Linked DNA regions of Homo sapiens. The protein of the gene in region 1 purifies or fractionates together with the protein of each later gene. This does not show direct contact. Each region holds a gene or a part of one and is shown in the gene's direction. Other genes may lie near its edges.

Region 1 (3,822 bases):
GATAGCTGGGAAGAGTATAGGCCCATGGTTTGGATGTGGAATCCAGTGTAGAGCGAGGACTCAGTCTTTTTTTTTTTTTTTTCTTGAGATGGGGTCTCACTCTTCTCGCCCAGGCTGGAGTGCAATGGCGCGATCTTGGCTCACTGCAACCTCTGCTTCCCAGGTTCAAACGATTCTCCTGCCTCAGCCTCCTGAGTAGCTGGAATTACAGGCGTCTGCCACTACGCTTGGCTAATTTTTGTATTTTTAGTAGAGACAAGGTTTCACCATGTTGGCCAGGCTGGTCTCGAATTCCTGACCTCAGGTGATCCACCTGCCTCAGCCTCTGAAAGTGCTGGGATTACAGGAGTGAGCCACGGCGCCCGGCCCAGAGTCTTTTTTTTCTGGTGGTTCTAGGTTGTTTCTCCTCCAGATACAATAGCCTCGGTCCAGAAAATCCATTCATTCATTCAACAAAGTGGTTCCCCAGTGCTTAGCACAGAGCCTGGCATGAAGAATCTCGATAAGTGTTTGCTGAAGAATCAGAACAACATACAAATAAGGCTGCCAGCTCCTCCCTCGAGACCTTGATCCAGTAGTATGCTGGTTAATGGTTTCCAATCAGCTCTGGAAGAAGGATAAAATCCTGATTTATGGTGTTTGCCAATTTCTGTCTTGTAAATACTCCCAGCCATGACTGATTTGAAGCTACCAATGTGATGTCATTGAATGCAGAATTGGGAAGAGATAGAAAGAATCAGCTCGCATGAGCTGGTGGGACCCAGCTCAGCATCCCACTCCATCATCCTGAGCTGGGCTCTGGGCTCCTGCCCCTGGCTCCTAAGAACCCTCCCCTCCCCCTCTCTGTGCTTTCCCTTTTCTCCTCAACAGCCAGCTGCTATATGCATGCCCACAACCAGCACCCATCCTTCTTCTGATTCTGATTCCTGAGCATCCAACTCCAATGGTACAGAGGACAGCAAGAGTGTCTGGAAATCTCCATGGTGCTGGCCATGCAGGAGAATCCTGGACATACAAGAGTGTGTGGGAGTCCAGGTGTCTGTCCACAATGGGGCTGGTTTGTGTGAACTGTGTGAGCAAGGGTGTGTGCATGTGTCTATGGGCATGCCAGAGCCAGCTCTGTGTCTGCCTGTGTTCTATAGCAAAACTTTCAGATTGGGCCGCTGGTGACAGAGAAGGAATGCATTGGCCCTGCGTAGCCTCCTCCTTTGTTTAGAGGAGCAGCCAGGCCCACCAATGAGAACATAGTGTCAGTGGTCTGCAGACTGGCTGAGAGACACTGTTGAGCAACACTTCTCAAACTTCAATGTGCACCTGAATCACCTGGGAATCTTGTTAAAATAGGCCAGACGCGGTGGCTTACGCCTGTAATCCCAGCACTTTGGGAGGCTGAGACGGGCGGATCACCTGAGGCCAGGAGTTCGAGACCAGCCTGGCCAATATGGTGAAACCCCGACTCTACTAAAAATACAAAAATTAGCCAGGCATTTTTAGGTGGCATTTTAGGCAAATTAGGTGGCGCATGCCTGTGGCCCCAGCTACTTGGGAGGCTGAGGCAGGATAATCACTTGAACCCAGGAGATGGAGATTGCAGTGAGCTGAGAACTGAGATCACGCCACTGCACTCCAGCCTGGGGGACAGAGTGAGACTCTGCCTCAAAAATAAATAAATAAATAAATAAATAAATAAATAAATAAATAAATAAATATGAAATACATGTTCTGATTCAGCAGGTCTGGGCTGGGGCCTGAGGTTCTGCATTTCTAACAAGCTTCCAGGTGATACCAATGCTGCTGATCCTCAGCCCACACTTTGAGTAACAAAGCTGTTGATGGTTTGAAATATCCTGCCTATAGCCTGGCCCCAGAACTTCATAGACAGGATCGAGCCCCTCCCATCTTAGAAAATAAATATTCTTCCTCACCTCCCTTCAGCTTTAGCGCCCTCCAACTACTGCCCTCACATGTATTCCTGATTTCAGCCAAGCTTTTCAGAAATTCTAGCTCAATATGATTGCGTCACTACACTCCAGCCTGGGCAACAGAGTGAAACTCCATCTTAAGAAAAGAAGTTCTAGCTCATGTCACCTCTTGCTCACTCCTCACCTAAGCTTACCTCCCTTGGGCCACTAAAACAGTGTTTCCAGTCTCATCTGGGGACCTTTTACAGGGATCTAGCTTTACCCATCTCTTGGTACAATCTTCATGAGACCATGAGGCATCTCAGTCTCCTGGGCCGGTATATATTCCTCTGTTCAGCCTTTAAATGTAGGTTCTCCTCGTGACAGAGTGACACCCTATCTCAAAACAAACAAACAACGAAGGCCAGGCACGGTGGCTCATGCCTGTAATCCCAGCACTTTGAGAGGCCGAGGTGGGCGGATCACCTGAGGTCAGGAGTTCGAGAACAGCCTGGCCAACACGGCGAAACCCCGTCTCTACTAAAAATACAAAAATTAGCTGGGCATGGAGGCACTCACCTGTAATCCCAGCTACTGAGGAGGCTGAGGTAGGAGAATGGCTTGAACCTGGGAGGCAGAGGTTGCAGTGAGCCAAGATCGTGCCACTGCATTCCAGCCTGGGCAACAGAGTGAGACCCTGTCTCAGAAAAAAGAAAAGACAAATTGAGTCATGCCCCCACCCCACCCTGCCACCTCAAACCTTTCAAGATTTGCTGTTGCCCTTCATATAAAATCAAATCTGAAATAGGGTGCACAGGCCCTGCCTGCAGGGTAAGCCCAGCCCAGCCCTCTGTCCAGACTTACCATGTCCTCTTCCCACCCCGCATTATCCAACTTTGACCTTCCTAGCACTCAGCAACGCTTGTCATTTCAAAATCACTTGCCTGATTATCTCCTCCATCAGACCGTTGGTTTCTAGGGCAGGGACAGTGTCTCTCTGGGTCACTATCTCCCAGCACCTGGCACAGAGCAGGCACCAGAAAACATTTAGGAGGATCCTGATTCCAAGAAAGTAAAGCCATTTTTTGACACAAGCTGGGAACTGTGGGACTTTAGATGAGATTTAAGGAATTACTGTTAATTTCATTAGACATGAGAATGGTGTTGCGATGACATTGTTTAAAACGTCTTTATCTGTTGGAGAGATGTATTAAAGAGTTCACGGGTGAAACAACATGATGGCTGGGATTTGCTTCAAAGGACTCCAGCCAAAAGTAAACAAATAAAATAAATAAGCATTCAGATGAGGGAACAAAGGGACAAATAAATCCCACTCTGCTTGTCTGTTCCTGTTGACAGCTACAGGGCCTGCAAGGATGTTGGCTGTCCCGGAGATGGGCCTGCAGGGGCTGTACATCGGTAAGAACCCCCACCATTCTGCCCTGACCCATCACCCACTCACCCGAGCAGGCACTGAGACCCACCTACAGGTTGTGCAATGTACCTCTCCCACAGAGCTTCCCAACAGCTCTTCTGTGAGTGAGTGTGTGTGTGTGTGTGCATGTGTGCAGGGCAGGTCTGTGTTTACTGGACCCCCCTGTGTGTGCAGAAAGGGTCTGTGTGCACCGGTCTGTGTATGTGAGTATGTGTGCACACAGGACTGGTCTATTCACAGGACCCTCATGTGTATATGAGTGTGGGCTGAGTGCGTGTGTTTGTGTGTGCCAGAAGGGTCTGTGCACACAGGAGTGTATGCATGTGCGTGTGTTTTGTTCAGGCTCTGTCCACAGGACCCTGTGTGAGTGTGTCAGTGAGTGTGTGTCTCTGCGGGCAGGTCTCTGTGCACGGGATCTGTGTACGGGAGTATAGTCTGCAGGTGGGCATGCATACAGAGAGTTCTGCGTGTGCATGGAGGGTCTGT
Region 2 (3,822 bases), on another chromosome or scaffold:
TGTACAGAAGTTGTTAATGTATTTTTATTCAGATATAAAATGGCTGGCTTGTTCATGTAAAGTATCTTTAAGGTCCTTAACAGGTTTAAAAACAGTTTTTGCCGGGCACAGTGGCTCATGCCTGTAATCCTAGCAGTTTGGGAGGCTGAGGTGGGCGGAACACCTGTTTGAGACCATCTTGTCCAACATGGCAAAACCCCGTCTCTACTAAAAACACAATAATTAGCCGGGCATGGTGGTGCATGCCTGTAATCCCAGCTACTCAAAAGGCTGAGCCACAAGAATCGCTTGAACCCAGGAGGCGGAGGTTGCAGTGAGCCAAGATCCTACTGCTGTCCATTCCAGCCTGGGTGACAGAACAAGACCTTGTCCGCCCACCTTCCACTCCCCCACCAAAATAAAACAAAAAATAAAAACACACTTAGCTGGGCATGGTGGTGTGAACCTGTAGTCCCAGCTACTTGGGAGGCTGAAGTGGGAGGCTTTCCTGAGCACAGGAGGCCGAGGCTGCAGTGAGCCACTGTACTCCAGCCTGAGTGACAGTGAGACGTTGTCTCAAAAAAAAAAGTTACCTACGTTTTACTCCTTTCTCTAAGTTTAAATCCCCCAAGAGATTAAAATAATTTCAATGACAATCTGAGAATTTCTGAGGTTAAGGAGAGGCTGCCCTTTGAAAAGGTGGAGGTGAGAGATTTTATAACTGAGATAATTTGTAAATAAGGGTATAACTGATCTTACAGGAGATGTGAATATAAGGCTATCTGTGTAGTTTATATGGGTCAATATTTTGTATTTAATTTCTCTATACACTACTAGAGATAACATATATTTGTTTTAATCCAGAAGAAGCAAATATTCTGAAGTCTTTTTTCTTTCCATTTTTTACCAGTAGACTATTAAACGAAGATAAAGTCATTATTAGAGCTATATTGTCATCATATTTTCAGAACAGTTGTTTCCTCAGTTATTCATTTAGTCTGGGTTGGACTTCCCAAGGGGGAAACCAATATCCCAAGAGTCTGGCACAGTTAAGTAGTTCCAGATGGCTTGCAGTAATAATGAGGGTGGACACTTTAAAAATGGCTTGGAAAAGAAAATCGCTGGTTATAGACACTAATAATTCAGTTACATTGAATTGTGTGAATCATTAATGACTTTGGATTAGGTCAGAAAATCATTAAACTTTATCTAATTTACAAATATATAAATGGAAAAATATATGGATTCATGTTATATAATACCAATTTTTAAGTTGCACATTTTTTTCTCATTCAAAAATAATAAACGTTCACATTTATTAAATAAAGAAGTGGAGAACATTCACATAAGCAAAAAGAGGAAAAATACCATTCATTGTTAATCATGCTTTCCAGGTTTTTCTCCTGCTTCTCAGGCTATCCCACTTCTTCTCTGTGAGCTTTTAATATTCTGCCTACCCCTTTAATATTGGTGTTCTGTCCTTGACCTTCTTTTGTCTGGTTGACTTATTTGTCCCTAGTCAATATCAATCTGTCACATGACTTCAGTTATTGTAGTTATGCTAAAGGCTCCCAACTCTATCTCCATCCTTTCTTTGACTGCTAGAACAGCTTTACCTAGATGTCAAAATTTCCTCAGATTAAACTGTCTAAAACAGAATTCAGTCCTCCAACCCTCTTTACGGCCCCCAAAACAAACAAAACCAAAACCTGATACTCTTTCTGGTGGGTCCATCCCTGACTTCTCCTTTCCCTGACTTCTCCTTTCACCTCTCACATTCAGTCACATCTTGTTAATTCTACCTCGTAAATACCTCTTAAATATGTCTTTCTTCATTCCCACTGTCATTGTCATCTCTTGCCAGTCTTACCCTTCTGCAATATATTTTCCCCAGTGTAGCCAAAATGTTTAATTGTCACACTGCTTAAACATTTTTACCCTTTACCCAGAGTTAGCCAAACTCTAAGGTTAAGGGCACAGTCTTCTACTCTGCCAAGTCTGCTCAAGACTTCTGATCCTATTGTAAGGGGTTAGGGTGCAACTACAAATTTCAAATGAAGATGCTATGCAAAACCTCACTTCTAACATCAACTGCAAGTTTGGGGGTTTCCCCAAACCACCCTCAGATTCAGTAATGCACTAGAAAAACTCATAGAACTCACTGAAAGCTATTATACTTAGAGATACAGTTCATTACAAAGACAAGCTACAAATTAGTCAAAGGAAGAGAGATGCCTAGGGTATAGTCTAAGAGGGTTGCAGATATGAAACTTCCATTGTTCTCAGGGAATATACCTTCCATACCCTCCCAGCATGAATGTGTGGATGTATGGAAATACACACAAGGTATTGCCCACCCAAGAAGTTCACCTAAACTTTAGTGTGTCTGGAGTTTGTGTTTTGTTTTTTAAAGAGATGGGGTCTCACTATATTCCCTACGCTGGATTCAAACTCCTGGCTCAAATGATCTTCTTACCTCAGCAGAGTTTTCATTGAGATTTATTGATTGTTTGCATGGTTGAACTCAGTTTCCAGTCTCCCCTCTCCAGAGGTTAGGCTGATACTATGTGGTTCAAGGGACCCATCATGAATAGTAAGAATACTCATATTACTCCAGAAATTCCAGGGGCTTAGAGGTTACCTCCCAGGAGCTGGGGGCAACATCTGGACCTCTCTTTGGACAAGTTTTTTACTCCACATCCTTCATCACCTATCTCTCTTTTGCCCTCTAGATAAAATCCAAAGGTAAGGGCTTATAATCTTACTTCATTAGTTTTATTTCTGGAATCACTATCCACCCACTTCATCCCAGCTCTACCCCTCCAGAAACTACACTTCAGCTATATTAAACTAATGTATTTCTTTGAAGGTATTGTGTTATCTTTTGCCTCTGCACCTTTGCACATAGTATATTTTTCCCTCTGCTTGGAATACTATGTTCCCCCAATAGCCACTCCCAACACAATCCAATTTCTTACCCGTTTTTTAGTTCTCTGTTTAACACCTCTTCCTTGAGGAAGCCTTTGCTTACCGTCCTCACACTCATCATGAGTTAGGGGTCCCTTCTACGTTCCTTTCCATAATACCCAATGCCATTCCTCTTGTAAGTACTTGGTTTAATTTATTATTTTTTGTCAGCAAATATTTATATCTCCGTCACTAGACCAGAGGTCTCCAAAGTCAATTGCACCTAAAATACTTCATTTCGGCAAAGGAAGAAAACATTATCATCTGTTTATTTGTGTATAACATACGAAATTAAGTGCTATAAATATTTGACATGTTTATTGAGATTGGCAACTTGTTCTGTATGACGACTGATTTCATGTGAAGCATGGTAAGTGTGGTATTCTGAGGGAGTGCAAATTCCACAGCTTATGGGGGTTGACCGTGGCATCCTTTCTCCAATTTTTAGGCCATTACAAACTATTACAGTTTATCTGTGCCTGAGTAAATAGATTTATGGATTATATTTCCTGGTTTTAACAAAATTAGCCCTCATGAAATGGAAAATTGGCTTTAAAAGTTCCTGTGAAGATGGCTGGGCTTGGTGGCTCATTCCTGTAATCCCAACACTTTGGGAGGCTGAGGCAGGCAGATTGCTTGAGTCTTGGAGTTCGAGACCAGACTGGGCAACATGGCAAGGCCCCGTCTCTACAAAACTTAGTTCAGCTACTCAGGAGGCTGAGATGGGAGGACTGCTTGAGCCCAGGAGGTTGAGGTTGCAGTGAACCATGATCATGTCACTGCACTCCAGCCTGGGTAACAGAGTGAGACCTTGTTTCAAAAAAAAAAAGTTTCTATGACAAAATCATGAGTTAAACATAATATTGATAATGCAAG

What was found.
Region 2: the proteins of HSPA12B (region 1) and PPM1E purify together in Homo sapiens (affinity purification with mass spectrometry; one large-scale study listed by BioGRID and IntAct). This does not show direct contact.

Annotation. Positions count from the first base shown.
Region 1 is NC_000020.11:3,735,398-3,739,219, forward strand, and holds part of HSPA12B (heat shock 70 kDa protein 12B), read left to right. Parts: intron 1-870; exon of another isoform or gene 871-943; coding exon of another isoform or gene 944-946; intron 947-993; exon of another isoform or gene 994-1,035; intron 1,036-3,260; coding exon of another isoform or gene 3,261-3,277; coding exon 3,278-3,320; intron 3,321-3,822.
Region 2 is NC_000017.11:58,758,699-58,762,520, forward strand, and holds part of PPM1E (protein phosphatase 1E), read left to right. Parts: intron 1-3,822. UniProt on the Homo sapiens protein: Protein phosphatase that inactivates multifunctional CaM kinases such as CAMK4 and CAMK2. Dephosphorylates and inactivates PAK. May play a role in the inhibition of actin fiber stress breakdown and in morphological changes driven by TNK2/CDC42.